Linked DNA regions of Homo sapiens. The protein of the gene in region 1 purifies or fractionates together with the protein of each later gene. This does not show direct contact. Each region holds a gene or a part of one and is shown on either strand. Other genes may lie near its edges.

Region 1 (3,500 bases):
ACAGATATATAAGGAAGAGAGAGAGGAGGGGGCCCACGGAACCCCAGGGAATGGCAAAATTAAAGGAAGTGAGCTGGAGGTGATGAACCGAAGAAAAGCCTCAGGATAAGGAGGGGGAACAAAGTGCAGAGTGAAGGGAACCATGTTTCAAGGAGGGGTTACAGTCAATAGTGCCCAATGGTCAGAAAACCAGGAAGTGTCCGTTACAGTAGATAGCTAGTCAGGCATGAGCAGGGCAGGAGAGGGCTCCCCGACCCACAACAGGAAGGCGACCATCACGTGATGGTCAAGCAGTTGTTAACTGTGTCGCTAAAATACTAATTGGTCACAGCTGGTGCCAAGGGACGGCAGTCTCTCAATAGATACAAAAACCTGAAACTGGTGATCAGCTTCCCAATAAGATCTCGGGAGTTGGGTGAGTCGGCTCAACCATGCACACTAAGAGGCAAAATGGCAGAGCTTAATTGGTGTATGTCCTTCTAGGAAAACTGGGACTGGTATGGGAAGAATGCCTCACGTGAGCATGCGCAAAACTCCGGTAAACACACTGAGCATGCTCCCCTCCCCAACACTGGCGGGCCACTGCGCATGCGGGCAGCCCACCCCAAGGGAAGAATCCGGGGAGACGGGATGCAAGTCCCTGGAAGTATGCCAACATCTAAAACCCAAATTCCAAGGTCAAACCACACACTTTCTCTCAGGTCACCAGCTTGGCCCTCTTACAAGTGTACTTTACTTCCTTCCCTTCCTACTCTACACTTAATAATAAACTTTCTCTCCTGCTCTAAAACTTGCCTCCGTCTCTCCTTCTGCCTTAGGCCCCTCAGTCGAATTCTTTCTTCTGAGGAGGCAAGAATTGAGGTTGCTGCAGACCTGTACAAATTTGCTGCTGGTAACACATCCATTGGATTTAGCACAGGGAAGCTATCAGTGACCCAAGCAAAACCAGCTTCAGAGGAGAGGCTGGAAAGGGGGCCCCAGTGCAATAGTGGAGGGAACATGAAGGCACTGGAGGAAGGCAGAGGGCAGGGGATACTGTGAGGGAAGGGAGGGAGTGAAGCACTGGGTCAGTGGATGGGCCTTTTAAAAATGCAGGTGAAGAAACTGAACACCCAATGGATATGGAAGACCATGCCAATGAAAGTTTGCAGACAGAGGGAGAGGCCATGTCTGGGGGAGTTCCTAAGAAACTAGGGAGGTTGGCTAAGGGACTGCCCCTAGAGAGGGAAGGGACATGACTTCCACGGGTGGGAGGAGAGCAGGCAATCGCCAGAGAAGGCGCAGGCAAGCTGGCCAATTGCGACAGAGCAGGAGCTGAAGGAGTTCTTCCTCCACAGCCCCTACTGTCTGTGAAACAGGAAGTGGTGTCCTCTCAAAGTGCTAGGATTATAGGTGTGATCCACCGTGCCCAGCCAATTTTTTTCTAAAGACAGAAAAAATGTCTTGCTCTCTCACTCAGGCTGGAGTGCAATGGCGGGATCATGGCTCACTGCAGCCTCAAACTCCTGGGCTTAAGCAGTCCTCTTGCTTTGGCCTCCTAAATTGGTGGGATTACAGGCACGAGCCACGGTGCCCAACCACGTGAGGTTGGGAACTACTGAAAGTTTTCAGGAAAAAGAGTTGAATGAAGAAAGCCATATTTGGGGCAGACTGGCAATGACATTCAGAATTAGATAAGGAAGAGACAGCTGGAGTCACTGGGAGGTGGTGGGTTTTAAGAGGAAAGGTGGGATAACTCATTGGACAAGCATGAGCTACCTGGACCATTTTTTTCCTTCAGGTTCCCAACCCTGCCATAACCTCTTTCTGGACATAAATACATATTGCATTCTTCATATTGCCTGGCACTGGGTCATATGTATTCTTCTCAAGAAACATTTGAAACTTGACCATACGTCAATCAAGATTGCAAACTGCATTGTACAGATCTGAAAACCTGCACTGTTTTTTTGTAATCCCAGCACTTTGGGAGGCCAAGGTGGGTAGGTCACCTGAGGTCAGGAGTTCAAGACCAGCCTGGCCAACATAGCAAAACCCCGTCTTCACTAAAAATACAAAAATTACCCAGGTGTGATGGCGCATGCCTATAATCTCAGCTACTCAGGAGGCTGAGGCAGGAGAATTGCATGAACCTGGGAGGCAAGGGTTGCAGTGAGCTTAGATTGCACCGCTGCACTCAAGCCTGGGCAACAGAGTGAGACTCCAGCTCAAAAAATAATAATAATTATAAGAATAAAAAATAAAATAAAATTTTAGTAAGTTTTGGTAAGCTAAAACATTACATCACAGCAGAATAAAAAACTCACCTTTCTAATGTCCTCATACAGACCTTTCAAGTCTCTCCAACCGAGTTTGAAAGGATCGGTGTATTTTTCACCACTGTGTGTTTTACTGTCTGGGGTTGTGTGATGAAACCTGGGACATGCAAAAATGCACATGACTTCATTTTCAAGTAAGTTTTATATACATATATATTTAGTAGACTCAGATACGGAAAATTCAGCCCAAATATTTGCTAGAAATTAATCATGAATCTGAAAAGGTCATTATAATTTGGAAAAACATACAGAATTCTATTCTTGCTAAATGACAGATCAATAGATCACTTTTATAAATAGGGCCTTGAGAACCCACAAAATCAAAGAAAAACTAAACTATGTTCATTGTGCTCTGGGTTGAGCTCAAACTTTATTATATTCCTGTTTTTTGAATAGGCAGAGATCTACAATTTAGAATAGAAATTTACAGGCAATATAATTAATAATTTTAGGCCGGGTGCTTATGTCTGCAATCCCAGCACTTTGGGAACCTGAGGGTGGGAGGATAGCTTGAGGCCAGCAGTTCAAGACCAGCCTGGGCAACACAGTGAGCTCCCCATCGCTACAAAAAAAATTTTTTAAACAACAATAAATTTAAAAATGGATAATTTTAGTAGTTGCAGTATGGACTGTAAACTTACCGTGATATACGACATACATTTGGACAGGCAGATGTTAAATGCTTCACAAGATTAATATAGGGTATCTATAAAATAAAAATGTCAAGAAACTTGTAAGAATATTCCTGAAAAACTGTAACATTGGATGATAAAACCCCCATAATTATAATCTTTATCTTCTAATCACCCATTTACAGGTAGATTGCAAACTTTAGAGGAAGAATAATTTTAAAGTTTCCTTTTGTTATTACAAAATACTTGTCATTGCAGAAAACATAAATAAGAAAAAAGGAGAAAATAAAAACCATCTTCAGTCCATCCCTTCCCCCAAAGAAAGCCATTTCCATATTCATATCTATCTTTCCAGACCTGAAAATTAGTTTTAAAACAATTTCCTTCCATTTAACTAAGATTGGTCAGAGGAAAAAAGATTTCAATAGCAAGGAAGGAATTTATATTTATACAAACACTGTCTATTTTAAGTTCGTGTTCCTCAACATCCTTTGGAAATGGGAGAACAGAGTTTGAAAGCACACAAACCAGGGTGTTAAAAGTAGTTATT
Region 2 (3,500 bases), on another chromosome or scaffold:
TGAAAAGGCCCTAAGGCATGGTATGCTCAAGAAACAATCAGGAGGCCAGTGAGCTGAACAGGAGTAGTACATGAGATCAAAGAGGTGATGAGATAAGAAGGGAGGCAAAGATGACATAGATCTCTAAAGCCACTGTAGTTTTGAGTTTGCATAAAATGGGGCAAGAATCAGTACAGAGATCTGAACAGAGGAGCCAAACAATCTGACTTGTATTTTTAAGGGATCACGTTGACCTCTGTGATGAGAATAGACTGTAGGGGGCAAGGTGAGAAGTAGGAAGACCGTTTAGGAGACTGCTGCAGCATCTGGGCTAGAGAAGATGATGGTTCATACCAGGGTAGCAATGCGGAGGGAAAGAGAAGTCGAGAGTGAACCTGAGATTTTGGCCTGAACAACTGGAAAGATAGAGTTGCCATCAACTGAGATGGGCCAAGCTGTGGCAGAGAGGATTCCATTTCAGATGTGTTACATTTAAGATGTCTATCAAGCATTCAAGTGAAGATGCAGTAAATAGTAATATACAAATCTAGAGTTTGGGGAGAAAAACCCAGACTGAGATATAAATTTGGAAGTGTCTGACTACATATGGCTTTTTAAAAAATTTTTAAATTTTTATTTATTTATCTATTTTTTGAGATGGAGTCTCGCTCTGTCGCCCAGGCTGCAGTGTAGTGGCGTGATCTCGGCTCACTGCAAGCTCCGCCTCCTGGGTTCACGCCATTCTCCTGCCTCAGCCTCCCGAGTAGCTGGGACTATAGTCACCCACCACCACACCCGGCTAAGTTTTTGTATTTTTAGTAGAGACGAGAGTTCACTGTGTTAGCCAGGTTGGTCTCGATCTCCTGACCTTGTGATCCTCCCACCTCGGCCTCCCAAAGTGCTGGGATTACAGGCATGAGCCACCATACCCGGCCTTACATATGGCATTTTTAAAAATCAGGAGGTAGGATGAAATAATGAAGGCAGTGAATATAGGTAGAGAAGAGACCAGAGACTAAGCCCTGGGGCCCCCCAAAATTAAGAGGCTGGGGAGGTAGAGAATGAGAGACCACCAATGTCCTTGAAAACCAGGAAAGTGTGGTACCCTGGAAGCCGAGAAAGTCCACTGAGGAAGAGGGAGTGATGAGCAGTAAATGCTTCCCATAAATTGAGAACTGAGAACTGAGCATTGGATTTAGCAATGCAGAGGTCATTGATTTTGACAAGAGCAGATTTGGTTAAAATGGAGAGCCAGACTGGAGTGGGAATAAGAATGAGAGAAGAAAAGATGGAGGCAGTTACTTATAGACAACTAGCTCAAATGTTTTTCTACGGAGGGGAACAAAGAAACAAGATGGTAGCTTATAGGAAATGGGATCAGAAGTATTTCATGTTTTTCTGGCTTTGGGTCATATTAATAAAAAGTTAAAGACTGAAAACCACAAAACCACCTAGTATACATGATTTCAATCCTTAATTTTCAAAATTAAAAAAAAATTCTTTTCGTGCAAGGCCATTGATATATAAATATTCAATAGTGGTACCCCTTTAAAAAGTTATTGTAAGAAATGTTAGGACAACCTAGAGATGTGAGACTTTGTTGTTACCTGCGTGTACAGCTCATTTAACCTCTCTCTGTTGCAGGACAGAGAGGGGAGAATTGCTGGAGCAGTGTAGCAAAAAACTTGTGTGACCTTGTGTAGGCAAAAAGAGAGGGTATATTATACCAGTAGGAGGGGATAGGCTTTAGAGAGGCACATAGGAAGCTCCTCTATGGTTAAGAGGTGGGAAGGCAAAGTAAGTGAGTGTGGATGCTGCCAAGGAGATAGATCTGGTGTTGGCTGGTTGTGGATGTCTTCTTTTCCTGAACAAGGAGATAAACCATTATCCCCATTTTCCTCAAAAGAAGAAAGAAGCTCAGAGAGGTTACACAGCCAGTAAGGGGCACAGCAGAACTAAAATTCAGAGTTTCTGAGCACAAATCCAGTTCCATGTGTATTGGAGCTCCCCACTTCCCTGTAGCCTTCAAATAAGTGTGTAGGTGCCCTGGTTGCCAGGCTGGACATTTGAAGGGAAGTAGTCAGCTTTACTCTTGTTTTGGTGCTCACCAAGTATTTTCTCATTCAAACAGAACACATGGACCACTTATAGGATCGAATAAACATCAGTACTAAGGAAAACAAGTCAGTAGGTGATTTCCACGTACAGCCAAGGCTGAGAATCCCGTGGCTGGGGCAGCGCATCTCAGACTTGAAATGCCTGGGAAATCATGTGACCCTGCATATTCTGATTTAGCATTTCTAGGGGGAGGGCCTGAGATTCTGCATTTCTAACAGGATTCCAGGTGATGCTCATGCAGCTGGTCCACAGACTGCACTTCAAAAAGCAAAGAGCTGAAAGGTGGAAACAATCCGAATGTTTACCAACAAGTAGAGAAACAAAATGTGGGATGACCGTAAAAAGGCCATTAACTTTGGGAGGCCGAGGAAGGCGGATAACCTGCGGTCAGGAGTTTGAGACTGGCCTGGCCAACATGGTAAAACCCCGTCTCTACTAAAAAAAAATACAAAAATTAGCCGGGCGTGGTGGCAGGCACCTGTAGCCCCAGCTACTCCGGAGGCTGAGGCAGGAGAATCGCTTGAACCCGGGAGGCAGAGGTTGCAGTGAGCCGAGATCACGCCACTGCACTCCAGCCTGGGCAACAGAGTGAGACCCTGTCTCAAAAAAATAAAAGAAAAGAAAAGGCCATTAAAAGGAATGAAATGCTGACACATGCCACAACTACAACACGGGCAAACCTTGAAAATGTTACGGTAAGTGAAAGAAGATGGTTACATAAGACCACATATTATATGAGTCTACTGATGTGAAGTGTCCAGAATAGACAAATCCATAGAGATAGAAAGCAGATTAGTGGTTGCCAGGAACTGGGAAGATGAGGGAATGTACAGTACCTGCTAATGGGTATAGGATTTCTTTTTGGAATGATGAAAATATTCTAGAACCAGATTGCACAACATTGTGAATGTACCAAATGTCTCTATAGTGATGGCAAATTTTACATTATACGTGGTTTACCACAATAGTAAAAAGAAAAAGAAAAGAGCGAAAAGCTGGATCGTCTCTATGGTTTCTTTAGTTTTGATATTCTGTAGTTTTAAGCACTGAAGTGTTAAGAAAGGTAAACAACTTTCTGCCCAAGGAGAAGGAGAAGAGTTCTTTGGAGAGAAGCCTTGGTAAGTTTCCCAAAGGGGAAATGCTCCATTCTGTGCAAAAGAAGGGAGCAACTTGGCACAGCAATGCACTAAACGGCGCTTAGGGGCTATGGAGGGAAGAACCTGTGAGTGTTCCCAGGCAAAATCAGTCAGTCAGTCAATCACGTAACTGCGCCTCTACAGAGTCCTCTTTTTGCACCAAGCTCTGATGTCAGGAAAATGGAAAAAGTCATGCAGTTTTGCAGGAAGCTCACAGTCTAATAGAGAAGACTCCCACATGGGACCGAAAACAGTAAGACAGGCCCT

The links. The genes of interacting proteins can lie anywhere in the genome.
Region 2: the proteins of PDSS1 (region 1) and XAF1 purify together in Homo sapiens (affinity purification with mass spectrometry; one large-scale study listed by BioGRID and IntAct). This does not show direct contact.

The regions. Positions count from the first base shown.
Region 1 is NC_000010.11:26,704,201-26,707,700, reverse strand, and holds part of PDSS1 (all trans-polyprenyl-diphosphate synthase PDSS1), read right to left. Parts: intron 3,025-3,500; coding exon 2,960-3,024; intron 2,416-2,959; coding exon 2,307-2,415; intron 502-2,306; exon of another isoform or gene 373-501; intron 1-372. UniProt on the Homo sapiens protein: Heterotetrameric enzyme that catalyzes the condensation of farnesyl diphosphate (FPP), which acts as a primer, and isopentenyl diphosphate (IPP) to produce prenyl diphosphates of varying chain lengths and participates in the determination of the side chain of ubiquinone.
Region 2 is NC_000017.11:6,762,546-6,766,045, reverse strand, and holds part of XAF1 (XIAP-associated factor 1), read right to left. Parts: intron 1-3,500. UniProt on the Homo sapiens protein: Seems to function as a negative regulator of members of the IAP (inhibitor of apoptosis protein) family. Inhibits anti-caspase activity of BIRC4. Induces cleavage and inactivation of BIRC4 independent of caspase activation.